Homo sapiens: one gene and its partners. The protein of the gene in region 4 purifies or fractionates together with the protein of the main gene of each other region. This does not show direct contact. Each region holds a gene or a part of one and is shown on either strand. Other genes may lie near its edges.

Region 1 (3,089 bases), on a different chromosome or scaffold from region 4:
TTGAGGATGAGATACAATTGCTGTAAAGAACTATAAATTGAAGGATTTTTAATCTTAAAATTTATTTCTACTCCTACCTTTTCACCAGTCTTCTAACCAGAAGACCAAGGAATGATAACCAAGTGACTGCTAACTGATTTTTCTTTGATACAGTGTTTTTTCTGATTATAAATTATTTTACTTTACCAAGTTAAGTTCATCAGATTGACAATATGTGATATCAGATGCACAGTTTTGCAGGGTGGAGTTTCTGCTTTCAAACAAGTTTACTGTACAGCACATTTTATCAAGGGAAGTTTGCTGAAGTTGTTTTCTTTTAACCTGATAACCATTGAAAACTTTTCTAGTAATCCCCAATAAAACTGGGCTTCAGTTCCGTTACCTGTACAATAAGACAGACTAGTGGATCTCTTCAGGTCTCTTCCAGATCTGAAATTCTGATTCTATGAAGAGTTCAAGGCATTTCTCAGAAGTGACCAGATAATATTGATAATGCCTTATTGGGAATGCAATTAGCGTCATTACCTGACCTCTTTATTTCCCTGATTGAATATAAGGAAGGGAGTTATTGTTTATTTGCCATGGGCTTTGTGCCAAACCAGAGCTTGTTTCTTACCTTTAGTACACTTAATGCTTTAAACATACCGTCTTAGGATCAATTGGAAACATGCTAAGTTTACTTTAAAATGACAGATAGGGCACTGTCTTTTGGCATGTGAAGGCACTTCTCATAATCACAGCACTGGTAGGTTTTCTTTCTGTTAAACTGAGTAAACTTATATGTTTTGAATTGAAAGGTCTATAAGGTGTGGAGAACTTTAGGGAAAGCTAAAGTCAGTTTTAGGGTCACCAGCATAATATGTTTATAAGCATTATCTTGGGAAAGCCCCTAGTGCAAGTATAAAGCTTACTTTGATAGAGAAGGAACTAGTGATAAAAGGTCTTTTTTTAAAAAAAGAGAAAAACTTACTGGTTTAAATAGGAATTTTCCTTCTGTGTAAGAAGTCTTGGGGAAAAAACTCATTCTCGTTTAAACTACAACAGTGTCTTTATTTCTTTACAGATATTGCAATGGCAAAATCAGCAAAGTTAATTCAACAGCAGCTGGAGAAAGAACTGTAAGTGTGAAAGAGGCCTGTTGGTTAATTATATATCTTAACACTTAGACTGTAAGCAGCATATTCATGTTTCTTTTGTTTGGTTTTATGTGATTATCACAATTATAGACTGAAGATTAGTGTGATAAATATTTGTTAAATAATTTACAAAATAATGGAATCACAAAAACTTACTAGGGTGCTTATAGATATTTTAAAATTTCATGGAAAGAAGATTTTTTTGAAACCATAAACTTAATTTATTTTACCATTGTTACTAAATCATTTATAGTTGAAAGGTTTTAGAAGCTAAAAAAGTTTACATGCCAACTTGAGAACGGTGTTATTTCAGTGAGTGGAAGTGTTTGTTCACCACTCAATAATGCCTGTGAAGTGGTATTTAAGGATGCATGTAAATAATAAAAAATAAAAACTGAGAATCAGGAAAAAAGAAATTAAAACATTTAAAAGCCACTTTGGAAATTATTGTTGACAGAATAAGAACAGAACACTGAGGAAGACTACAAGTCTTTGATACTACATTATAGCTTCTTAGATTGTTAAAATACTTGGCAATATTATATATCCTGCTTTGAGTGTTTCAAGGTTTGTAAATTGAGCTATAAGCTTTTGAATTTTAAGGCATCTAGCATGTCTTCTGCGTTATGCCAATTTGTAAGAGCTAGCCAAAAGCTGGTGTAGAAGAAATGATCAACATTTATAGTAAAGCAAGTTATGTTTTCTTATTGCTTTTGTGTAAGGCCTTGAAAAGGATCTGATGAGGAAAAACTGTATAAATTCAACTTTTAGAAACTTTTCTCCCCACTATGACTTACTGACTCCCTTATTCATTTAAGAAGCACCTGTAGTGCATCTAGTGGATGCCAAGACTGCAGTTGGGAGCAGCTGTAGGAGGAAATGTGTTCCTGTACTCAGGAGCTTAGAGTCTGGTAGAATCTAGTCAGCTTCGGGCATTGGCAAACTCCTGCCTGGGCCTGCAAGCCAAGAGTAAATCGACATTTTTAAAGGGCAGGTAAAAAACAGAAGAAAAATATGCGACAAAATATTTAATTTCTGGCTCTTTGCAGAACAATTTTGCCAGCCCTGCCTATGCCATTTTCAGTGGTTCCTTTCCCGTCTGGAGCTGCGAGTTTATCACCCTGTCCTCCTGTGCTCTTGATGCTCACTCTCTTGGATTGTATCTGTTGCTGCCATTAGGTTAATAAGGACATTGGAACAATTGGATGGTTGGGTTTTTCTAAAAATTCTCTTGAAATTGTTGGGAATTGTTTTGGGGAAGCCAAAACTGTCATAATGTTATTTGTGAATCAGTCTTGGGTTATTTTTAACAGTACAGTCCAAGTCTCCCGTGGTTAAAACACATGTTTTCCATAGGCTGTTTGCTTTTCACTCTATAGACTTAGAGAAAAACAATACAGAAGCCAATCCTTTTTTAAAAGCATTGAAAGGCAATGCTTTCTTAAAAGGCAGTGAAACAAAATGTTGACAAATTGTAAAGGTTAACATCAGTTAAAATTCGGAATCTGACTAATTTTAATCTCAGATTTATGAGAATTAGGCCCTGTTAGCTTAGAGGCATTTCATAGTCTCTCAATAACACGGTATATTATATTTACATGGCCTTGTGGCAAAAGCTGAATACATGTTTTACTTTTTTCCTTAAAAAATTTTTATTGTAAAATATCTTACTTATAATAGTATATATGTCACATGCATTAAGCTTAAAAAATATTAAAATGAATACCTATGTACTCACCACCATGCCTAGAAGGCCCCTGTTTCTCCCCAAAAGCTTTTCCCTCAAGAGGTCAGCAATATCCAGTTTTGTATTGTTTTTTAAAAATACTTTTACAGTGTGTGTGTGTGTGTGTGTGTGTGTGTGTGTGTGTGTTCCTTCCTAAACAAGGTATTGCTTAGTTTTGCCTGTGGATTCTTCACTAATTTTGAAGCAACTTTACAGAACAAGAAATG
Region 2 (3,500 bases), on a different chromosome or scaffold from region 4:
TTCCAGCTGAGCTTAGCTTCTAGAATGGTGTAGGTTTTGAACATCCTGTAAATTGCATTTGTTTTCCTCTCAGCAGTTGCTGAGCAAGTAAATGTTCCAGTAAGATTTTTCAAATGGGCTGGGCCTAGCGGCTCACTGCTGGAATCCCAGCACTTTGGGAGGCCAAGGTGGGAGTATCACTTGAGCCCAGGAGTTTTAGACCAGCCTGGGCAACATAGAGAGACCTCATCTCTACAAAAAAATAAAAAAATTAGCCAGGCATGATGGCGTGCCTCCGTAGTTCCAGCTACTTGGGAGGCTAAGGAAGGAGTGTTGCTTGAGTCCAAAAGGGTGAAGCTGCAGTGAGCCATAGTTGCACCAATGTACTTTAGCCTGAGTGACAGAGGTTTTTTTCCCCGTTTCAAGGGGAAAAAAAATTTCAAACGACTTAAGACAAAATAAAAAAGATAAGACATAACCCAATGAGTATTGCTACACTCCTCTTTCTGCTACATTTCGAGATAGTTTGTGATCAATGTATTTAGAAAATTAAATTACATTTATAGTAACAGGTATGATTAATATATAGCAAAATGCCATGTTCTGTTTCAGTTTGATACAAATCTATTGTTGAAGTTATTTTGTTAATCATTAATAATATTAAATATATATCTCTTTTTTTAACCCCTTCATGCTCTTTAATGAAACAAGATCCAGTTGTTAAACCTAAAACAGAAAAAGAAAAGCTGAAGGAACTCTTCCCAGTCCTTTGCCAACCGGACAACCCTTCTGTTCGGGTACTGATACCATTTTAAGAGTGTCTACTATAAATATATATTCTCAACCCCTTTTCTTTGTCTCATAGTAATTTTATTAATTTTAAGTTTGCCTTTGTTGTAACTTATTTTTAAGAATGAAAGTGTTTGATCACTCCCTGAGCATGTACTATGTATTGAATTTGTTAAGGGGTTCTGAGAATGATATTCAAGGGAAATGAGATTGGGAATTTGGGGAAGTAGTGATTAGGAATATGAAATAAGGTTCTGGAACAGATGCCTAAGGTGTGAAATTAGATTTTTTTTTTTTGCTCTGTTACTTGTTAAAGGTCTAATTTTTAAAGCATTTTGATTTTTAAATTTCATTTTAATAAATATTTATTGAGTACTTACTGTATGCCAAACACTGTTCTAAGTACCTGGATAACAGCAGTGAACAGAACAGACAAGAGTTTCAGCCTTTGGAGATTATATCCTAATTTTGGGGTAGGGAGCAGGAAATAAACATGTAAACATTCTGGTGGGGAGGAGATAGGCAATAAACAAACAAATAGGTATGTAACATAGCAGATAGCAATAAGGGCTATTTAAAAAAATAAAGCTGGAGTGGGGGTAGGGAGGAAGAGTGCAGAGGGAGAGTTGCTTTTTAAAATTTTTAACACCTGTTTTCTATTAATATAATCATCACTTGCATTCTTTCATGGCAGGGATGATTAATATCTAACTGCCTTTCATAGAATTCTATTAAGGACAGAGGGGATTTGTCAAATGTAGCAGTAATTCTCAAGAGCCTTTTTTCCATTTCTTCTGCATCTATCCTGAATCAAGTTTGAAATCTCTGCCCCTCTTCTATTTCCCTCACATAGTGATTAGTGATTTATAGATGTACCTGAGGTACATACAGATTCTTGAGTAGTTTTTTTTCCTAACTTTGCCGGCCTCTACCTCTGCAGACCATGTTGGATGAAGATGATGTGAAAGTTGCTGTGGATGTCCTGAAAGAACTGGAAGCTTTAATGCCCAGCGCAGCAGGCCAGGAGAAGCAAAGAGATGCTGAACACCGGTTTGTCCTTAGTGTCCTGTCCTTTGGAAGTTTAGGGTACTGTGACAGTTGAATATTATGGACCAGCCAAGCAAAATTTTGGGCAAGTTTACAGAATCTGGACTGGTCATATATCATATTGTTGGATCTGTTTTCATTGCTTCCTGCTAAGTGTATGTAGCAAATGCTAGGTTGTTCAGAATATAGAAGTCAGGGTTGAAAGAGGCTGAATATGTTTGTGGCTCAATTCTTTATTGGCTTATAGGGATGTCGTAGTTATTGAAACTCTAATTCAGTTCAAAACCTAGTGGGTACCTACCATGTGCATGGCACTGTACTGGGTGCTTGGGGATGCGAAGATGAAATCGGATTGGTTTCTTTTTTAAACAGGTGCTTATTGATTTGTTAGGGACAGGACAAAGAAGAAGAAGCGGAGTCGAAGCCGAGATCGAAACCGAGATCGAGACAGAGATAGGGAACGAAACCGAGATAGAGACCACAAGCGGAGACACCGATCCCGCTCTCGATCACGTTCCAGGACCCGGGAGAGGAATAAAGTGAAGTCTAGATATCGGTCCAGGAGCAGGAGTCAGAGTCCCCCCAAAGACCGGAAGGACCGGGACAAATATGGAGAGCGGAATCTGGATAGATGGCGGGATAAGCATGTGGACCGCCCTCCTCCAGAAGAGCCCACCATTGGTGACATTTATAATGGCAAAGTTACCAGCATCATGCAGTTTGGTTGCTTTGTGCAGCTGGAAGGACTAAGGTAATGACTGGTGCTCTTTTGTTCACACCAGTGATGGGCAGAATTTCTTTTATCACTGAGGATGTTCACATTCTAAAAAGTTACTTTGATTAATGACACTTTAGTCAAATCAGCCATACATGGTTCTTAGAAATTGACTCTTTTGAAATGTTACAGAGCCATTTATTCCTTTCTCTGTCTTCAGGAGATCTGTCCTTTGCTTGTTGGGACAGATAGAATTTGCTTCCCCACCCCATGTCTCCCCATGAGGAGAGTGTTAATACTATTTTATTGTTTGACCACCTTCATGGTACTTTTCTCTTGAGTTTAAGACCATTTTCTTTTGTTAGTTCCAGTAAGGGTAGAAATTGGTTGGGGGAAAAATATTTTTTGGCATGTTCCAGATGTGTCTGGCTCTCCCTCAGGAAGCGGTGGGAAGGCCTGGTGCACATCTCTGAGCTCCGGCGGGAGGGTCGTGTGGCCAATGTAGCTGATGTCGTGAGCAAAGGCCAGAGGGTCAAAGTCAAAGTGCTGTCCTTCACTGGGACCAAGACCAGCCTGAGCATGAAGGTAGGTGAGATGGTCAGCCTGTTCTTACATGTGATGGCCAAGGGAATGGAAGAGGACAGCAAGTGAGACAGCTCCCTTGTTTTTGTGCCTTAGGATGTGGATCAAGAGACTGGAGAAGATCTAAACCCAAATAGACGGCGAAATCTTGTCGGGGAGACCAATGAGGAGACCTCAATGCGGAATCCTGATAGACCCACTCACTTGTCCCTTGTCAGTGCTCCTGAAGTAGAGGACGACTCACTGGAACGCAAGCGCCTCACCCGAATCTCTGACCCAGAGAAGTGGGAGATCAAACAGGTTGGGGCCTTTAGTTTTCATGACCAGATAGTCATTCAGCATGTAGCATGGTGCTTAGGGGTGTGCCCTGGAGCACGATGGCCTGGGA
Region 3 (3,500 bases), on a different chromosome or scaffold from region 4:
TTGAGGCTCCAGTGAGCTGAGATTCCACCACTACACTCCAGCCTGGGCATCAGAGCGAGACGCTGTTTCCAAAAAAAAAAAAATGCTTAGAGGAGCAGTGCCTGGCTTGTAGGAAGCCCCAAGTCAGCGTGGGCTGGATGCTGCAGGCCCCAGCCTGGCTTTCCAACTAGAGGCCCTGTCCCTAACCCTCCCACAAAGGTGGAGGCCATTGAGTACTACACAAAGCTGGAGCAGAAGCTGAAGGAAGACTACAAGCGGGAGAAGGAGAAGGTGAATGAGAAGCCTCTTGGCATGGCCTTTGTCACCTTCCACAATGAGACTATCACCGCCATGTGAGTCCCCAACTCGGCCCTCGGCCCTGAGCAGCCCTCCAGGGCTCCCTGACCCCTGTGCTCATGGCCTTCTGCCAGCAGTGTGGCCTCCAGGTGGGCCTGTGGTAACCAGTGCCCATCTTTCTAGCATCCTGAAGGACTTCAACGTGTGTAAATGCCAGGGCTGCACCTGCCGTGGGGAGCCACGCCCCTCATCCTGCAGCGAGTCCCTGCACATCTCCAACTGGACCGTGTCCTATGCCCCTGACCCTCAGAACATCTACTGGTGAGCAAACAGGTGTCAGGGCAGGCTTTCCAGGGCCTGGGATGGGCTCAGTAGGTAGGCGGAGGAGAGGGAGTGTCTTGGTGTCACTGGGGGCCAATCCTGCCCTTGGTTCCTGGACTGACCGGTTCCCCACCTTGCCAGGGAGCACCTCTCCATCCGAGGCTTCATCTGGTGGCTGCGCTGCCTGGTCATCAATGTCGTCCTCTTCATCCTCCTCTTCTTCCTCACCACTCCAGCCATCATCATCACCACCATGGACAAGTTCAACGTCACCAAGCCTGTGGAGTACCTCAACGTGAGGCCTCATGCCCCTGTCACTTTCCACGCTGGGTCACAACACACAGATACCAGGCCCTGATCCCTCTTCCACTTGCCCAGCCCAGCCCGTTCTGCTTGTTCCAACCCCGTGCCACCAACCAGCTCCCAAAAACCCCTGTGTGCACTTCCCTTGGGCTCCCTGCCACCTTCCCCCTGAGAGAGGCCACCCTCAGGTGTGCAACACCTGGAGAAACACCCAGGGAAGAGAGAGAGCCTGCATTTAGTCCTGATCTCAGAGAAGTCCCCTTCCCTCACCCCTCAGTCTAACTGAAAAAATGGAAAGGTTCAACTAGATCAGTGGCTTTGGACTTGGATTCTGATCTCTTTATCGGTGTGAAACCCAGTGTGGAAAAGCAGGGCTGCTCCGATGACAGTAGGGTGGCATGCATGTCTGCCTGGCCTCCCCTCACCTCTCCTCCCACGCATAGAGCATACCTCTTTAGAACCTCAGAGTTTGAAGAAGGACAGTTTGCAAATCACTTGGAGTGATAATACCATAATAGATAAGACCCAGACTGCATGGATTCAAATCCCTACCTCATGGCTTGCTAGCTAGGGAAGCTATTGAATCTTTTTTTTGCCTCAGTTTACTCATCTGTCAAATGGGGTAACAGCATTATTGTGAGGATTAAGACATGGCAAGTACATCAGCACTGCTTAGAACATAGTAGATGTTCAGCAAATGCTGACTATCAGTATTATCCACCCTGGGGTTATACATATGGCCCTGGCCCCCACCCTCACCCCAGCCCTCCGGATGTTCTGGGCTTCCAACATGGGAGCCCTGAGAGTTGTGAGGCCAAGGGCCCAGCTGGGGAGGAGGCACATAAGCAAAGCCACCTGGGCCCCCTAGACTGCCCTGCCTGACGCCCCCCTGTGCCCTGCTGCAGAACCCCATCATCACCCAGTTCTTCCCCACCCTGCTGCTGTGGTGCTTCTCGGCCCTCCTTCCCACCATCGTCTACTACTCAGCCTTCTTTGAAGCCCACTGGACACGGTAAGGTGCCTCCACTCACACCACACCTCGCTGTGGCCTGCCCTCAATGACCCATCCTCTCTGGGCAGCACTTTGCCCTTCAGGCTCCTGGCCCTGGGCAGTCCCACAGCTGGTAGGGAAGGGGTAGTGCCCAGCACCCTCACCTTGGGAGGCCCACCCTTCCCAGGGGACACTCCTTGGACATTGTCCTTGTTGGGGGAGCAAGTCTGGGGCCTGGGCTCACTTGACCTGTACCGTTCCCTGCTCCCCTCCCTCCAGCTCTGGGGAGAACAGGACAACCATGCACAAGTGCTACACTTTCCTCATCTTCATGGTGCTGCTCCTACCCTCGCTGGGACTGAGCAGGTGAGTTGAGAAGGATGGGGCAGGAGCCAGGGTAGGGGGACAGCAGGATAGGGAGAGGAGAGCAGTTCAGCCTCCCTACCTCCCCTACAAAGCAAGGGGCCCAAGATGGGAAGCCTGGCCACCCCCAGGCCTCCTGAGCTACCCACCCCATGTCTGGGAGTCTCCCCAGTGGCTCACAGAGGAGGGACTTCCCCTCCCCTGGTGTTCTGTACCACTCCAGCTCCCACCCCATCTCTCCTCTGCTTCCCTCCAGCCTGGACCTCTTCTTCCGCTGGCTCTTTGATAAGAAATTCTTGGCTGAGGCAGCTATTCGGTTTGAGTGAGTGACTGGGGCCCCTAGGGAAAGAGACCAGACAGCAGGGGTGGGTATGCTTGAGAGACATTGCCAGCCCCATGGGAGGGTGCAACAAAGCTTCCAACTCCTGGAGGGGGCAGAAGAGAGAGGATCTGGCGGGGTTACCCCAAAGGCACCCACAAGGTGTCTTGGGTGTGTATACATGGTAGAAGTCCCTGGGGTCTGTGTTGGTGTTCACTCTCTGGTAACCTGTTTGGATGCTAAGATCATCCTCAAGGTATATTTGGGGCTTGGGGCTCCACATTCTGGTAGTTTCTATGGGGGTGTCTTGTGCCCATATTCTGGGACTAACTGTGGGCGTCTCTGGAGTTCCACTTGGGAGGTTTGGGGAACCATCTCTAGGGAGGTCTTGGTGATACTTAGGGAGTGTCTTGGAGGCTACTAGGGGTATCCCTGAAGGTCTCTAGAGCCCATATTTTTGGGTATGTGTAGGAGGCTCTTGACCTTATAACTCTGGGGGTGTCTGTGGGCGGGGAGGCTAAAGGACTCACACTTTGGGATGTTTAGCAGTACAAGTTCTGGGAACATCTCTAAAATTTCAGGCTTTTATTCAGAGATGTAACTGTGGAGTTCTGTATGGGCATCTTCTCTGGGAATCATGTGAGGATATATTGAAGGTCATGCACCATGGCTGTGGGCACAAACTCTAGGGGTTTTGCTGTAGGCCATCTGTGGTGATCTTTGAGTCACACTTGGGGCATCTCAGGCACTGATAAAGGTTCCTGGGCTCCCCCAGAGATGTTGCGGGAAGGGTCTCAAAGCTTGTTTGTGGAGGTATCTGAGGCTCATGTCACACTCTGGGGGTAACTCGAGTTATGGTCTAAGTGGGGGAATCTTCTGGGTGTTCCTGGGGCTGTCAGCCTTTGGGTTCTTTGAGGGTCTCATTGG
Region 4 (3,500 bases):
TTTTATCTCTGCAGAATTTGAACCCACCAAGTGTGTCAAACTTTGTCATTAGCTAGGTACTCAAATCTTTAATTTGATCCTTTAATTGCTGATGGTAGCCATTTGTTAGATTTCTTATGGTGGAGCAGAATTTGTTTTTTTTTTTACTTTCTCATAGAGAATAGTTTTTTTTTTCCCAATAATTTCTATGAAATTATTTTATATATATATATATATATATTCCTTAAGTGGAATAATATATATTATATATATTCCTTAAGTGGAATAATATATATTATTATATATATTCCTTAGGTAGAATATATATATTTCATATATAATTATATAATAAATGTTTAGCTGGGATGTAAATTGAAATCATTTTCTATTTGCAAATCACTTCAAATATATTTGCTATCACAAAGCAAAAAGTTACCATATTTTGTTTAGAATATTCTTATATATATATAGTTTCTTAAGCTCCTGTGAGTAGCAGCCCTAGACATTCAGATTCGGTTGCTCAGTTTGTTTATGATTTAGAAATTAATGGGTTTTTTTTGCATTGTAATATATTCTGAAGAGTCAAGTAAATGATATGTTCTGTTTTGATATCTAGTGATTTTATGTTGAATAATGGTCAGTAGCATGATATTTGTCCCTCTCTTGATTTATTGTTTAGTGGTGGGAAGGACAGCTGCTATAATATGATGCAGTGCATTGCTGCTGGGCATCAGATCGTTGCTTTAGCAAATCTAAGACCAGCTGAAAACCAAGGTAAGTACATGCCTTTATTGGGAAGTTGCCTAAATGAATGAAATTCCAACTTCATAATTACATTGTACAGGTATACCGTACAAAGATGAAAAAAAAAGAACCAATAAATATTAAGCACCCATTAGATGCTAGTTTCCACCTAGAACTTAGCATTAAGTGTTTTCACTTACTTTTTAATTCTCATAACCAACTTCTATAGAGATGCACTATTAATCTTAATAGACAGGGATCCTGAAGCTTAGAGTTTGTCTGAAGTAAACTAGCACAAACTTGTAGAGTTAAGACTTGAACCTTCTTACTTCAAAGTACACTACCATTTTACCCCACCACATTCCCAAGTACTGTAGGCAGCATAGAGGTAGATAAGATACAGTCTCAGGCCTCAAGGAGCTTGAGAAGTAAGACACATATTGATAAATGATATATTAATTTTATTATTAAAAGGATACAGTTTACCTATTTTAGATGTAAGCCAGAAATGTGAGACTTGAGAGAAGCATAAAGCAATGCATTCCCACTTTTCATTTGTCTGTAGTAACAAGGGCATCCACATATAATTCACAGACCTCATATTGACTACTTTTTTCATTCTTTTCTCCAATGAAATATCCCCAATTATAGCTTTTGAAAAAAGAAATATATTCACCAATTTGCTTTTTAATGCTATTGTGTTATACCTATGAAACTACAGATATTAACTGCTAAAATGTAAGAGGGAAAAAAGATTAGCACTTTTGTGACTTTTGTATTACTGCTTCTCACAGGACTTTTCTAGTAAGATCTTTTTATTCTCTCTTTTACTTCTTTCCAGGCTCCATGTTTTTGCACTGTTATTTTAAGATTAATTAAATGAGTGGTGTATGTGAGAACATCAGTCGTAGTTCCTGTCATGAAGTAGGCATTCTGTAAATTTAGCTGAATTGGAATCTAGCTAAATACTTGTTTTATATCTTTAAATGGATTGATTATAAGCTTCTTGAGAAGAGAGATCATATCTTCTATCTTCCTTTTATTGCTCCTCATCACTTGGGCCGGCTCTATGCCTCTGGTAGGAGTTCACGCAAGGTTGATTGGTGGACAGGTGTATAATGAACTAATTTGGATTAGCCCTGGAATAGTGAGCAGTTATTTCAGTCAGATATTTGAATCTTCTTTCCTTCTGTGATTAAGATGTAAGTAATGCTGGATGTCGTGTGGAAAGACAGAGTTTAGAAATATTTTATAGGAAGAAATGGAAAGGTCCCACAGAGAGTCAGAGGTAAATGCACATGTTTGGATTTTGTGCTGCAATTGATGAGTAACAGATGGTTTTTTAGAAGTGATGTTTTTTGAAAGAGTTCCAACTTTAAGAAAGAGAAAATTCTTTGAGGATGAATAGGAACTGCACTCTAACTTCTGTATTATAAAAGAAGAAGCAGAATCTCCTGTTAGGTTTACCAAAAGAGAGAAACTCCCTTATCCCTTGTGGCCAGGGGGAGGCAACTGGGACTTTCAAGCTATCTTGTGAAGTTAAAAAGCAGATGTTTATATAGTATATAATACATACATGGTATATTATAATTTCATCACTGGAGTTTCTATCTTGTTTTCAGCTTTCACATGAATTATTTTACTTACCTAGTACAGAACCATTAATATATAATCTTCCTTGTGTTCATGGTTCACCAGCAGGGTGGTAAAATGACAAGCAAAGTATATTTTTAAATTATACCTCTCAGTAGAATAGAGACACTTATTTAGAATATTGTTAGTGAGAAAAAATTTGATAGTAAATAGAATTAGAATATTCTGAAGTAAAAAGCCTGGAAAAGGCAGTCGAAACAATAGTAATTGTTGTAGAAGAAAACAGATGGCTGTGGGTTGGTAGATGGAGATGGTTTAGCTCATCTTGATGAAAATCAGCAGGACATTGGGAATTATTGAACAATTCACTGAATGACTTATTTTCCTATGAGTGTTATGAAAGAAACCTTAGTGAGGAATGACTGGTAGAGATGACTCCAATGTCCAGCAAAGTTACGGGTTTTCAATGGGTGGTGTGAAAAGGAATTTATTCCCATCAATGAGGATAATGCGAACTTGTCATAAAATTCACAAAACCATCTCTTTAGATTTGTAGTAGGAACTTTTGTGGCATGTTAATTGAGTTGCTTCAGGCAACAGGGGAGCCTTTGGTTTTATTTGATCTCACACTATTGTTGCTCTGTAGCTTCCATTAATCAAAGTTACAATGTGGTTAGGACTAAATAGAGCCTTAAAGAAAATTATCTTCTAGGTTTTTGAAGCCAGTGAGATGTTTTACTTATTATGCTAACATCAGAATGTTTCTTGCCAAGAAGCCCAAATTTCTTTGAGTAAATTGGTTTGATTGTATCAATATCCTTTAAAATGAATGTATTTAAAGATCCAGTCTAATTTTGAGACGAGAGAAGGCCGAAAGGTTTTTAGGTAACTTTGGCTATGTTCTCTACTTCCTACTGGGACCAGGAGTGGAAACATTTATAGTAACAATGTGAGTAATATTCTGAAGGAAGCCAATCTAACAATGTGTGAGTTCAGAAACCTGTCAGCCAAAATGGGGTAGCAGATTTTGATGATTTTGATTGTTGAAGGGGCCCTTGCACTATCACTTTTCATTCCTTTTGATAGGAAGTTTTCACATTTAATGGAAAGCCTGGACCTGTTTGGCTTATATTCATACATACACACATAGGTATATGTCAAAATAACTACTTTGTAATTTTTTT
Region 5 (3,987 bases), on a different chromosome or scaffold from region 4:
GAATTATACTTTGGTATAGATAACTCCTTTTACTCCAACAACATTGTTTAAAAGCACAAATCGCACTCAAGCGCAGCCAGCCGTATATGAATAGCAGAGGAGAACGGAAGTTAAGAGACTAACAGAAGTAGTGAAAATGAGAGAGCACGCGCGCGAGAGAGGTAAACACAAACTGTTCGCCTGGACCAACGACTTGAAGACTTGCCTCTAAGAGTTGGAAGTCTCGTCATGAGTCTCTTGCATTTCTGTCCATTTAAAAACAACCTCCACTTCTTGCCAAGCTTTATTATTCCCCCCTCCCACCTGGTGTGGTTTACAGATTGTTTTTAGCAAGAGCCGTATAAGAGAAGCTACGTACCCAAGACAATCTGAAATCAAGAGAAAACTGCTGCTAGAAACCCAAGGCGGGGAAGGAGAAGGATCAACCGAGAAATTAAGCCACGTTGCATTCTGGCCGCAGCAGTCATTAAGGAAGCGCAGTCCTCCCCACCCTTTTCAACCAGGACCGAATGTTGCGTCTTTCTCAGCTGCAATCACTCCTACTCTCCCTGTGGCAGCTGCGAAGGTGATCTACACTCACCGCTTGAAGCACAGTCGCCAACAACAACCGTAGCCCAAACGCCGGCACCAGACACCCACTCGGCCCAGCCGCCATCGCTACCATTTTCCGCAGGTTTCTGGCTGCCTAGAAGGACCCCTAAGCTAGGGGCGTCCACTCCAGAGCCTGATCCAAAACAGAACGCTAACGGCCGTTGCCCTTACATCTCTCATTTGGAAGTGACAGGTATTAAATAACGGCATATGAAAGCTTAAAAGTCATCAAATACAATCACTGGGTGCTTTCGATTACCCAAATCAGGCACTTGCCTAAACTCCCCACTTCTTTACTTCTGCGGTCTCCTTTCTTTTATTCACGACACTTCGTCAAGCAGCCAAGAAGCCACGCCTTCGCCAGTTTTAGCCCCGCCTTCTTCTCCAAGTTTACCCAATTGAATGTCGTCTTGATTGAGCTCTGTGGCAGAGGAAACCAACCGTAAACCGAACCAAGAGCGAAGCGCAGGGGCTCTTCCGTCCAATAAGCGGACCCGAACGGGGGGAGGGGCGGGGCTTCTGGTTGCCGAGCAGCGTACGCGGATGCGTGCGCGTGGTGGCGGAGGGGGATGGGCGGGGGCGGGGATGAGGGCGGCGCAGCCGCAGCGCCGGTGGAGGGGCGCGCGGCCGCGAGCAAAGGAGGGAGGGAAGGAAGGAAGAGAGGGAGGCGGGCAAGCAGGCGGGCGCGGGGGTCGGGGACTGAGGCAGTAGAGGGAGGCGAGAGCCCGGCAGCCGCTTCGCGCTGTTTGCTGCGCGGGCTTTTGGAGGGGGCGGCCGTTTAGTCGGCTGAGGAGAAGCGGACACCAGCGGCGTTGGTGATAGCGCCTGGGGGAGGGGGACTGGAGAGGCGAGAAGGGGGGTCGCTGCGGTGGTTCTCTCGCTGTCGCTCTCTCTTTGCCTCGCTCCCGGCTCGGCGGGCTCCTCCCGGCGTCTCTCTCGCCTCCGGGGTCCCGCTCCCCGCCCCCCGCGGTATGTCTTGATCCCGAGCAGCGGGTTTCATGGGGCTCCTCAGGATTATGATGCCGCCCAAGTTGCAGCTGCTGGCGGTGGTGGCCTTCGCGGTGGCGATGCTCTTCTTGGAAAACCAGATCCAGAAACTGGAGGAGTCCCGCTCGAAGCTAGGTGAGGAACTGAACTGCCCCGGGCTGAGTGCTGTGGAAGGGGCCGAGGAGGCGCTGCCGCCGGAGCAAGTGGGCGTTCATCTAACCTGGGGTCTGGCTCGGGGGCTGAAAGCGGTTTCAAAGAGAACCGGGAACAAGGGGCAGCGAGAGCACGAGCTCCAAGAATGGGTTGAATTAAGCTTGAGCGGCGTGCTGGGCTCGCGAGGTCACGGGGCAGAGGTTGCAAGGTTGGGCTTCCCTAGCCAAAGGGTAGCCCCGAAGTAGGCATTCCGCGGAGAGAGAGCGAGAGAGAAGACCGAACTCAGTGGGGAGCGTGTGTTGCTGGTCTCCGGAGACAGAAGCGCTTAGCATCGCGTGTTCTCTTGGAAGTCGTACAGGAAGCCCTGGCAATGTCAGATGAGGGGTATTCTAATTTGAGCTATGGGCATCTGGATACGAATTCTTTTGGGGGCTCATGAAGGGATAGGTGCGCAGAAATGGGAGGAGATGCTGGGATGACGGAGAGCAACATGTGAACACTGTAGCGAGTTGCACTCTTGTGCTCCGGGCAGCAAAGGACCTTGTAATTGCCAGCTGAGGGAGGCTGGCCGGGTAGTGCGGGAACGCGAGTGCAAAGCTTCATCGGAGTACGGAAATGAGGGTCCGGAGATTTAAATTCTTCTTTAGTGGCGCTAAACTGATGAATTGGGGCTTGAGAATAGGGATGCCTATGTATGTTGCTTCACGGCAGTGTTGATGTGAATTTCGAAGAGGAGGGAACGCTGAAGGGGAATTATGTAGTGAAGTTTGTGTTTGTTAAAGGAAAAGTAGGATTATGCGGAAAGCTAACCATATGGTTAAATACCTTAAAGGGTTAACAGGTGCTTTAATGGATGAGGGGGTCTAAAGTACAAAAAGTTGGTGTGAAGTTGTGAAAGACAGGCCAGAAAAAAGCACAGATAATAGGTACTTTCGGATTAATAGGGCACTTTGGCATTTGGAAGAGCTCAGCATGGAGAGCGAGAGTTAAAAGAATGACAGTGATAAATTTTGATTTAAAAATGTACATGGCACTTAAAAATCAGCTCAAGAGGATGTAATTTGAATATGGAAAAGTAATGTGAAGTGTTTTTTGCATACTCTCACCTCAAAATCATTTTAAATACCTTTTGAGAAGCCAGCAAAAACAAAAACAAAAAACCCTCAGCAGTGTAATTTAGACTAAGAAATAGATGTTACTGTGAGTGGATGATTAATTTTTAGGAAAAATGTACCAGAAAATAATTGTAATATTATGTATAGTAGCTATTTTGGTACAAGGCTTTGCAAAAGCCTTGACATTTTAAAGAGCCTTGAAAGAAAAACCATCAAGTAAATCTGAGTGAAGTGCAACTAAAGTTGGAGGAAAACTAGAGTTACTTCCAGCCCTCAATTCTAGAGTAAAATTTGAAGAGATACTCAGTTTATTTACGAATTCCTTTATTAATATGTATCTTGTGTGGTGGAAAAAAATGTCCACTTTAAATATTGAAGGTTATCCAGTCTGGTTTTTCTTTTCTTTTGGATCCATTTAGCGACATTCAGGGTCATATTCTGGCGTTATTAATGATCCAGCTCTACAGAAAAAAAGACTCCTCTTGAAGTGGAAAGTTATATTAAAATTAAAATTTGTACTTATTTTTTGTTTTGTTACTATTTGGAATTGTCTGGAGTTGATTTCTTAGACACGTTACAGTGGGTTAGAATGACTTAAATTTTTGATTTTCCTCCTTTCCTAACATTTCTTTCCCCATATACTTGAAAATTGCTTCCATAGACACAATCTGAATGATTTTTAAAAGAAAGTTATCTGAAGATGTATAATGCCACAGTTAAAATATAAAGTGCTTTCTTGTGATACAAGAAAGAAAATTTCATAAAAAGTAGTAAATATGCATCAAAATCCTCCTGGGACTACAGATGGGTATACCTGGGAGTACAGGTGGGTGTTACCATGCCTAGCAGAGGAAACCATATTTTGACAACCATATTCTGTACTAGGCACTTTTCATCGTAGATACTCGTGTTTAAAGTAAGAACACCATTTAAAGCCATTTTTGACCAGACACGGTGGCTCACGCCTGTAATCCCAGCACTTTGGGAGGCCGAGGCCGGCGGATCATTTGAGGTCAGGAGTTCGAGACCAGCCTCGCCAACATGGTGAAACCCTATCTCTACTAAAAATACAAAAATTAGTCGGGCGGGGTGGCGGGCGCCTGTAATCCCACCTACTCAGGAGGCTAAGGCATGAGAACCG
Region 6 (3,500 bases), on a different chromosome or scaffold from region 4:
AAAGTCACCCACATGTTTGCCCCACATCACTGTTGTAAAATCTCTTTATCCCCTAACAGAAGCATTAAAAGCAGGTTAAGTATTTCCACCCCTCCTTCCGGATCAGGCTGTAGAGAAGAAAGGCAAATCAGCAAATGGGGCCAGGCACGGTGGCTCATGCCTGTAATCCTAGCACTTTGGGAAGCCGAGGCAGGCGGATCATGAGGTCAGGAGTTCAGGCGGATCACAAGGTCAGGAGTTTGAGACCAGCCTGACCAATATGTTGAAACCCTGTCTCTACTAAAAATAGAAAAATTAGCTGGGCATGGTGGCGGGTACCTGTAATCCCAGCTACTTGGGAGGCTGAGGCAGGAGAATTGTTTGAACACAGGAGGCGGAGGTTGCAGTGAGCCAAGATTGCACCACTGTACTCCAGCCTGGGCAACAGTGCAAGACTACGTCTCAAAAAAAAAAAAAAAAGAAAGAAAAGAAAAGAAAAGAAAGGCAAATCAGCAAATGGAAACACAAGAAGGAAGCCCCAATGTGAATGTCCCCGAGTGTACGCATGATTTCTGTTGGAGGAATTCCTGGCCTGAAGAGACAGCATAAACAAAGGCCATCCAGAGGGAAACAAATGATAAGATAAGTGAAACCCAGCAACTCTCTCTGTCCTCCCCTCTACCTACTTCCCTCAACTTGTTCGTCAGAAAAACAATCTGAGCTTGACAGAATTACAATGTAAGCCTTCCTCTCCCAGCTGCCTCACAGCTCTCATTCTAAGCTAGAGGGTTAAGGGGGGAAGACATGCTTTTCTGTAAGGTCAGTGATGGGGCTCCCAAGATATGGAACTTGGCAGACTGGAGACAGCCATCTCACCCTGCCCACAGAGAAGCCAAAGGAGCAGAACTGTCAAACTGCAATGCAGGGAGTATAGAAAGAAAAGGTAAGGTATGGAAGAAACGTAACTTCAGACACAGCCTGAAAAGAAATTGGGTTAAATATAAAACTATATACATTTTTAAAAACATTTTAACCAGCCCTTAGCAGAAAATATCATAGGCAAGGCAGTTTCCTGCCACAGTTCCTAGAACTTCCATAGTTGGAAGTGTTACCTACTCACAGAATCTCAAGCCCTAAATGGGTCAGAGTATTTCCAGTTTAATCTCTATTCTTGATTTTTAAAAGACGAAAATATAATAGCAGGCCTGTTCATTTAACCTTCTGAGAACATGGTGCGGTCAGTCTCAGCCATTGGCTTCAATTCCAGCATTTATTTATTGCATGTCCTCCAACTTTTAGTTCACATTACCAACAGTGCTGAACAAAGTACCTCTAACGCAGAAATGACTGCCACACAAACAGGATGGGGAAACCAAACAGAAATGGTATTGTTGTTTCTTTTCCACCATCAGCCTAAATCAAATAGCAGCCACTAATAATGAGTTAACTGTAGTTGCATTTGAAAAAATAATTCCCGCGGTGGCTCACGCCTGTAATCCCAGCACTTTGGGAGGCTGAGTCGGGCGGATCACGAGGTCAGGAGATCGAGACCATCCAGGCTAACACGGTGAAACCCCGTCTCTACTAAAAATACAAAAAACTAGCCAGGCGTGGTGGCAGGCGCCTGTAGTCCCAGCTACCCGGGAGGCCGAGGCAGGAGAATGGCGGGAACCTGGAAGGCGGAGCTTGCAGTGAGCCGAGATCGCGCCACTGCACTCCAGCCTGGGCGACAGAGCGAGACTCCGTCTCAAAAAAGAAAAAAGAATTCCAAATGGGTTGCCTTGAACAGAAATGTATGACATTTTCCATATTCACAATTTCACCAACTTTCAAGAATAGAGAATGCAGCAAGTTTCTTCAGTTTAAGCTGTTTCATTTCCTTTAATTTCTTACAATTAGTTTTTTTGTGGGTTTTGTTTTTTTGTTTTGTTTTGTTTTGTTTTTTGAGACAGAATCTCGCTCTGTCACCCAGGCTGGAGTGCAGTGGCAGGATCTCAGCTCACTGCAAGCTCCGCCTCCCGGGTTCACGCCATTCTCCTGCCTCAGCCTCCGGAGTAGCTGGGACTACAGGCGCCCGCCACCACGCCCGGCTAATTTTTTGTAATTTTAGTAGAGATGGGGTTTCACCGTGTTAGCCAGAATGGTCTCGACTTCCTGACCTTGTGATATGCCCGCCTCGTCCTCCCAAAGTGCTGGGATTACAGGCGTGAGCCACCGCACCCGGCCCATTTCTTACAATTAATTTTGTAGTACATTCTGGGGATTTAGAAGGGTCCCTGGTCTAAACCTCTTGTTACAGAACTGCGGGTTCTAACTTGTGTCTAAACATTTCCCTGCTTGGTTTTACCAAATCTCTATGAAACTAATACAAATTTAAGCTTAGGCACATATGAACAATCTATCTCATCTGGTGAATAATGTTGACCACCATCCTTTACTCTTCTTCTTGGGCACAAATATCCAGAACTTTATCTAAGAGTAAGTCCAGAAGTAGCACCCAAACACACATTGATGGCATCTGTCATTCTGCCAAGAAAGGAAAAAGATCAAGGCTATTGGCTTTGGCAAACTTTCAAGAAGCTGCCCCTAGTCCTGACCTAATCTTCACAGGAGGACAACTGTCAGAAGCATACGGTTCCTTAGCAAGCTGCTGGCAGTCTTGCCTCTCACTTACAGGGTTTTCCTACCAGTTCGCTTTAAAATATGGCACCTTTTTTTGCCCTTAGTAGTGATAGCTGTGCACTGATATGTCCACAATGTACAGTCTAGTCCCCAAAAGCATGATTAATTTAAAAAAAAAAAAGATACAGAAAAAATCTGACTAGAATTACAGGTACAGTTTGTGGCTCCAAAACAAGGCAAAGCTAACCCATGCCCTTGACCTGGTTTGTATGTCACTAACAAACTGAGCTAGCCAACAAGCCAGAATATAAGAACCTATCTCAGAAAATAAAAGATGGGCATCTGTATTACCCCAACAATGCCCAAAGCTAGGATCTGGGCTATCTACTCTTGTAAGCCTAAATTCAGGAAGTCTATCAGATAGGCAACATTTTCCAATCACACTGCAGGTATTTTTTTTAGACATAAAAATGACAAAGACCAGTTTAATAGGTGACCTTAATTGTGTGCCAGCAGAAATACAGGTAGCCTTAAAACCCCAATCCTGGTGTAATTTATAGAACAGAATAAACCCAGGTTATTACTAAAGGTGAATGACATACTTAAAAAGTATAACAAGATGAGGCCAGGCGCGGTGGCTCACGCCTGTAATCCCAGCTCTTTGGGAGGCCGAGGCAGGCGGATCACGAGATCAGGAGATTGAGACCATCCTGGCTAACACGGTGAAACCCCATCTCTACTAAAAATACAAAAAATTAGCTGGGCGTGGTGGTGGACACCTGTAGTCCCAGCTACTCAGGAGGCTGAGGCAGGAGAATGGCGTGAACCTGGGAGGCGGAGCTTGCAGTGAGCTGAGATCGCACCACTGCACTCCAGCCTGGGCGACAGAGCAAGATTGT
Region 7 (3,500 bases), on a different chromosome or scaffold from region 4:
AATCCCAGCTACTCAGGAGGCCGAGGCAGAAGAATCGCTTGAACCAGGGAGGCAGAGGTTGCAGTGAGCTGAGATCACGTCATTGCACTCCAGCCTGAGTGACAGAGTGAGACACCATCCCCCACCCCTAATAAATAAATAAAAATAAAAAGAGCAAGAAGGTTTTTACCATTAACTTCTCCACCGCCATCTCCAAAGCTGTTAGGTTATTACATGAACCAAGACTGTGGCAGGCATATAAGGTGAATGGGCGGGCAGTGGTCAAGAAAGACACTGTATTTTACTTGAGACAAAACAATGGCAAATTTATAGAAATTAAGTAAGAGAAAGCAAGCCTACTCCAATCAGGTAGAAAGGAGATGTTATTCAGCAAAAAATTGGAGGAAGTAAACAAAATTTCATCAATTCTTGTCATTTTTCAAAGGATCACCTGCACCAATTCTGCCACATATATATGAAGTACCCTTTCTGATCCTTGACTCCTAGGCTACCCAGTCACCTTCTAACTGGTTTCCCAGGTATTTCAGACTCAGGAAAGAGAAACCCTGGATCGGTGACACAAGTATTCCAATCACTGGAAAAGACTATGCCTCACTGTAAATTACACTTGCAGCGTGACCTACGGTAACTACGATATGATTACCACACAGACCTGGTGAAGAGCTAATCTCGAGCAAGGCTCAGACCCAGCCTCTGTTACTGAGGTAGGCAAAGGACCTCGAAAGACCCCATCTACAGCCCTACTACTAATCTAATAACACTGAAACAGTTCTTAAAATTAGAACATAGTGTCTCCAAATTCCACTTGAACATAGAATATTAGCATATAAAAATAACTTATTTTTAAAATGTCTGTAAAGATACTATCATAATTGAATGAATTACTGTATTTCACTGAATCTAAGCCACTGATTGTAAAACACATTATTTTATATATACATATGGGAAAAAACTGTCCATTAAACTTTGTCACAATGTTAAACGATCACTGATTGTAAGACACATTCTGATTTCAGATATGTTAACAGTATGGGGGTAAAAAGTGCAACTTAGAATCAATGAAATGCAGTACTAAAAAATATATTCTTCAGGTAATTATTCAAATAAGGTATTAAACATTAAGTACATTAAATTGACATGTAATCATTTATCATTAGCACATTCTTAAAGCTATTTATCATTTTGGTTTCACTTCTCATTTGAAATGAAGAACATGCTGTCACTTGTACTAATTTCTAGCAGACATTTTGCACAAACTTTAAAACTTACAGATTCCCAATTTGGAAATCATCTCATTTTCATTTCTAGAATCACAGATCAGGAGGCGAGATAAACAAGGCCTACGTTAAGTGACAGAGTGCAGGGCTAGAAGAAGTCAAGGCTTGAAGCCCGACCCCTTGGGCCCTGTTCTGTGTTCTCTTCATTGAAATTAGAAATCAAATGAGTCATTACATTCTTTGATCCAACCCTACAGATAAGGTAAAGCAATTAATAAAAATACCTCTCCATTTCTTTTTTGAGACGGAGTCTAGATGTCGCCCAGGCTGGAGTACGGTGTGGCATGATCTCGGCTCACTGCAAGCTCCACCTCCCGGGTTCACGCCATTCTCCTGCCTCAGCCTCCCAAGTAGCTGGGACTACAGGTGCCTGCCACCACGCCTGGCTAATTTTTTGTATTTTTAGTAGAGACAGGGTTTCACTGTGTTAGCCAGGATGGTCTCGATCTCCTGACCTCGTGATCTGCCCGTCTCGGCCTCCCAAAGTGCTGGGATTACAGGCTTTAGCCACTGCACCCGGCCCATTTCTCTTTTATGAAACTATTCTCCTCAACTTTCCTGGAAAAATATTGATACCTGATAATTTGTTCAACCAATCAATTCAACTCCTACATGGTCTCATTCTGAGAATACCCCCCTTCTCAAAAACAATGCCTTCTTTGGGTGCTCTGAGGGGTGGAGACCATAAAATATTTCCTAATCAGTCACATGTCAAATGATAGCGTTATAACAAGATCCTATTGTACGTGTATGAGACCATTTGGTTATTTATGGAAGACTCTGGGAATTACAGAACATTTCAAAAATTTTTAGCATTTGCTATAATATGGACCTAAAAATTTTAATCCCCAAAGCATGGTGAAATTCTGCTAATGCTCTGCTCTGAATGGCGTCCTTAGAAGTGGCAGTTATTCAAAGATGTCAGTGAGTAATCCATCTTCTCTAAACGTTAGTCCCTTTTGTCCTGGTTTCTGGCAAGTGCTTCACATGGGCACTGCCAGTATTAAAAGGAGAAGACTCAAACACCAGTGCATTTGATGGGTATTGATTATAGACTTCAGCTGTGGGCTCCGTCAGACTACTTCTAGATGTCTCTATTATAGAATGCCTCATTGTATCATTCGTTTCAATCATTTCAAAATCCATTTCATTCCATTTTTCTGCATCCTCCTCTTCATTCTCTTCCTCATATTCATTTAGCCCGGAGCTAGAGAGCAGAGCTTTCTGGTCCTCACTCTTTCTGTCTTCTTTTCGCTGGCGATCAAGAGGTGAAGTGGCTAATTTATATAGCACAGGAAATAAAATACCAGTAGCTATTGATGCTCCCAAAGAGGTATACAGAACTACAGGCAAATCAGGGTATTTTCCTTGAAGAATTCCAATGACTGCAGGAATAGCCATTTCTCCCAGGGAAGCACCAATTACAAAAAATGCTGCAGATTTCCCATGGATGGTCGTGTACTGCTCAATCCAAGAAACACCACTCGGAAATGTGGTTGCCATTGAAGCCCCATACACTGAAGTTGCTATCCAGAGACAAATTGGGTTCTTGTCAAAAAGCACCAGAAATAAAGATGAAGTCAGGCTGCCAATGTTGCTCAACACAATCATGGTTCCAGGCTGTAAACAGGTAGCAAAAAAGATTGCCAGGCCCCTGCAGGCTGCAAATGTCCCCCAGAAGATGGAGTTCAACCCAGCAGCTTCACTTTCTTTCATGCCAGCATGGGTGGTTGCAAATGAGAAAACATAAGAGCCATATGTTACCTCAGCTCCAACATAAAAAAAGAAGAACAGAAAAAGGAGACAAAGAAGGGCGTTGTGATATTTTGCTCTTCGAAATGTCTCAGCAGATGCTCTTGCTTTTTCTTGCTTTGAGCTATTCTTTAAAAACAGACAAAAAAAAATGACAGAAACTAAGAACATGTAAGTACCGATAACAGCATAAGCCCACAGTAAATTCTTATCATTAGGTACTCCAAACAGAGCTTCTGAGTCAGCATCAGATGATTGGTTGAGTGCAGGATGGAAGTCAGACTCTGTGTGGTTTTCAGCAGACGCTGTCGGACCCAAAGCCAGTTTAGCTAGCAGTGGAGCCAAAAAGGCACCCAAGGCAAAAGAGAAGTGTAAGGCCTGCATATGTGGGGCTCCTTTGTCCCCCCAAATAGCCAAGATAAGGACGTTACCACCTGTCGATGAAAGATGGGAAAAATTATTTAAGTTAAA

What was found.
Region 1: the proteins of DPH6 (region 4) and SRPRB purify together in Homo sapiens (co-immunoprecipitation; one large-scale study listed by IntAct). This does not show direct contact.
Region 2: the proteins of DPH6 (region 4) and DHX8 purify together in Homo sapiens (affinity purification with mass spectrometry; one large-scale study listed by BioGRID and IntAct). This does not show direct contact.
Region 3: the proteins of DPH6 (region 4) and TMEM63B purify together in Homo sapiens (co-immunoprecipitation; one large-scale study listed by IntAct). This does not show direct contact.
Region 5: the proteins of DPH6 (region 4) and HS2ST1 purify together in Homo sapiens (co-immunoprecipitation; one large-scale study listed by IntAct). This does not show direct contact.
Region 6: the proteins of DPH6 (region 4) and DAAM1 purify together in Homo sapiens (co-immunoprecipitation; one large-scale study listed by IntAct). This does not show direct contact.
Region 7: the proteins of DPH6 (region 4) and SLC60A2 purify together in Homo sapiens (affinity purification with mass spectrometry; 3 studies listed by BioGRID and IntAct, with this or other methods). This does not show direct contact.

What each region holds. Positions count from the first base shown.
Region 1 is NC_000003.12:133,815,815-133,818,903, forward strand, and holds part of SRPRB (signal recognition particle receptor subunit beta), read left to right. Parts: intron 1-1,063; coding exon 1,064-1,118; intron 1,119-3,089. UniProt on the Homo sapiens protein: Component of the signal recognition particle (SRP) complex receptor (SR). Ensures, in conjunction with the SRP complex, the correct targeting of the nascent secretory proteins to the endoplasmic reticulum membrane system.
Region 2 is NC_000017.11:43,490,475-43,493,974, forward strand, and holds part of DHX8 (ATP-dependent RNA helicase DHX8), read left to right. Parts: intron 1-690; coding exon 691-776; intron 777-1,708; coding exon 1,709-1,818; exon of another isoform or gene 1,819-1,900; intron 1,901-2,187; exon of another isoform or gene 2,188-2,206; coding exon 2,207-2,566; intron 2,567-2,970; coding exon 2,971-3,115; intron 3,116-3,208; coding exon 3,209-3,412; intron 3,413-3,500.
Region 3 is NC_000006.12:44,148,054-44,151,553, forward strand, and holds part of TMEM63B (mechanosensitive cation channel TMEM63B), read left to right. Parts: intron 1-198; coding exon 199-332; intron 333-459; coding exon 460-597; intron 598-738; coding exon 739-892; intron 893-1,805; coding exon 1,806-1,912; intron 1,913-2,170; coding exon 2,171-2,257; intron 2,258-2,510; coding exon 2,511-2,576; intron 2,577-3,500. UniProt on the Homo sapiens protein: Mechanosensitive cation channel with low conductance and high activation threshold. Osmosensitive cation channel preferentially activated by hypotonic stress.
Region 4 is NC_000015.10:35,539,666-35,543,165, reverse strand, and holds part of DPH6 (diphthine--ammonia ligase), read left to right. Parts: intron 1-658; coding exon 659-753; intron 754-3,500. UniProt on the Homo sapiens protein: Amidase that may catalyze the last step of diphthamide biosynthesis using ammonium and ATP. Diphthamide biosynthesis consists in the conversion of an L-histidine residue in the translation elongation factor (EEF2) to diphthamide.
Region 5 is NC_000001.11:86,913,448-86,917,434, forward strand, and holds the start of HS2ST1 (heparan sulfate 2-O-sulfotransferase 1), read left to right. Parts: upstream 1-1,187; 5' UTR 1,188-1,589; coding exon 1,590-1,713; intron 1,714-3,987. UniProt on the Homo sapiens protein: Catalyzes the transfer of a sulfo group from 3'-phospho-5'-adenylyl sulfate (PAPS) to the 2-OH position of iduronic acid (IdoA) or glucuronic acid (GlcA) within the heparan sulfate (HS) chain and participates in HS biosynthesis.
Region 6 is NC_000014.9:59,195,167-59,198,666, reverse strand, and holds part of DAAM1 (disheveled-associated activator of morphogenesis 1), read right to left. Parts: intron 1-3,500. UniProt on the Homo sapiens protein: Binds to disheveled (Dvl) and Rho, and mediates Wnt-induced Dvl-Rho complex formation. May play a role as a scaffolding protein to recruit Rho-GDP and Rho-GEF, thereby enhancing Rho-GTP formation. Can direct nucleation and elongation of new actin filaments.
Region 7 is NC_000006.12:111,265,839-111,269,338, reverse strand, and holds part of SLC60A2 (sodium-dependent glucose transporter 1), read right to left. Parts: intron 3,464-3,500; coding exon 2,220-3,463; 3' UTR 1-2,219. UniProt on the Homo sapiens protein: May function as a sodium-dependent glucose transporter. Potential channels for urea in the inner medulla of kidney.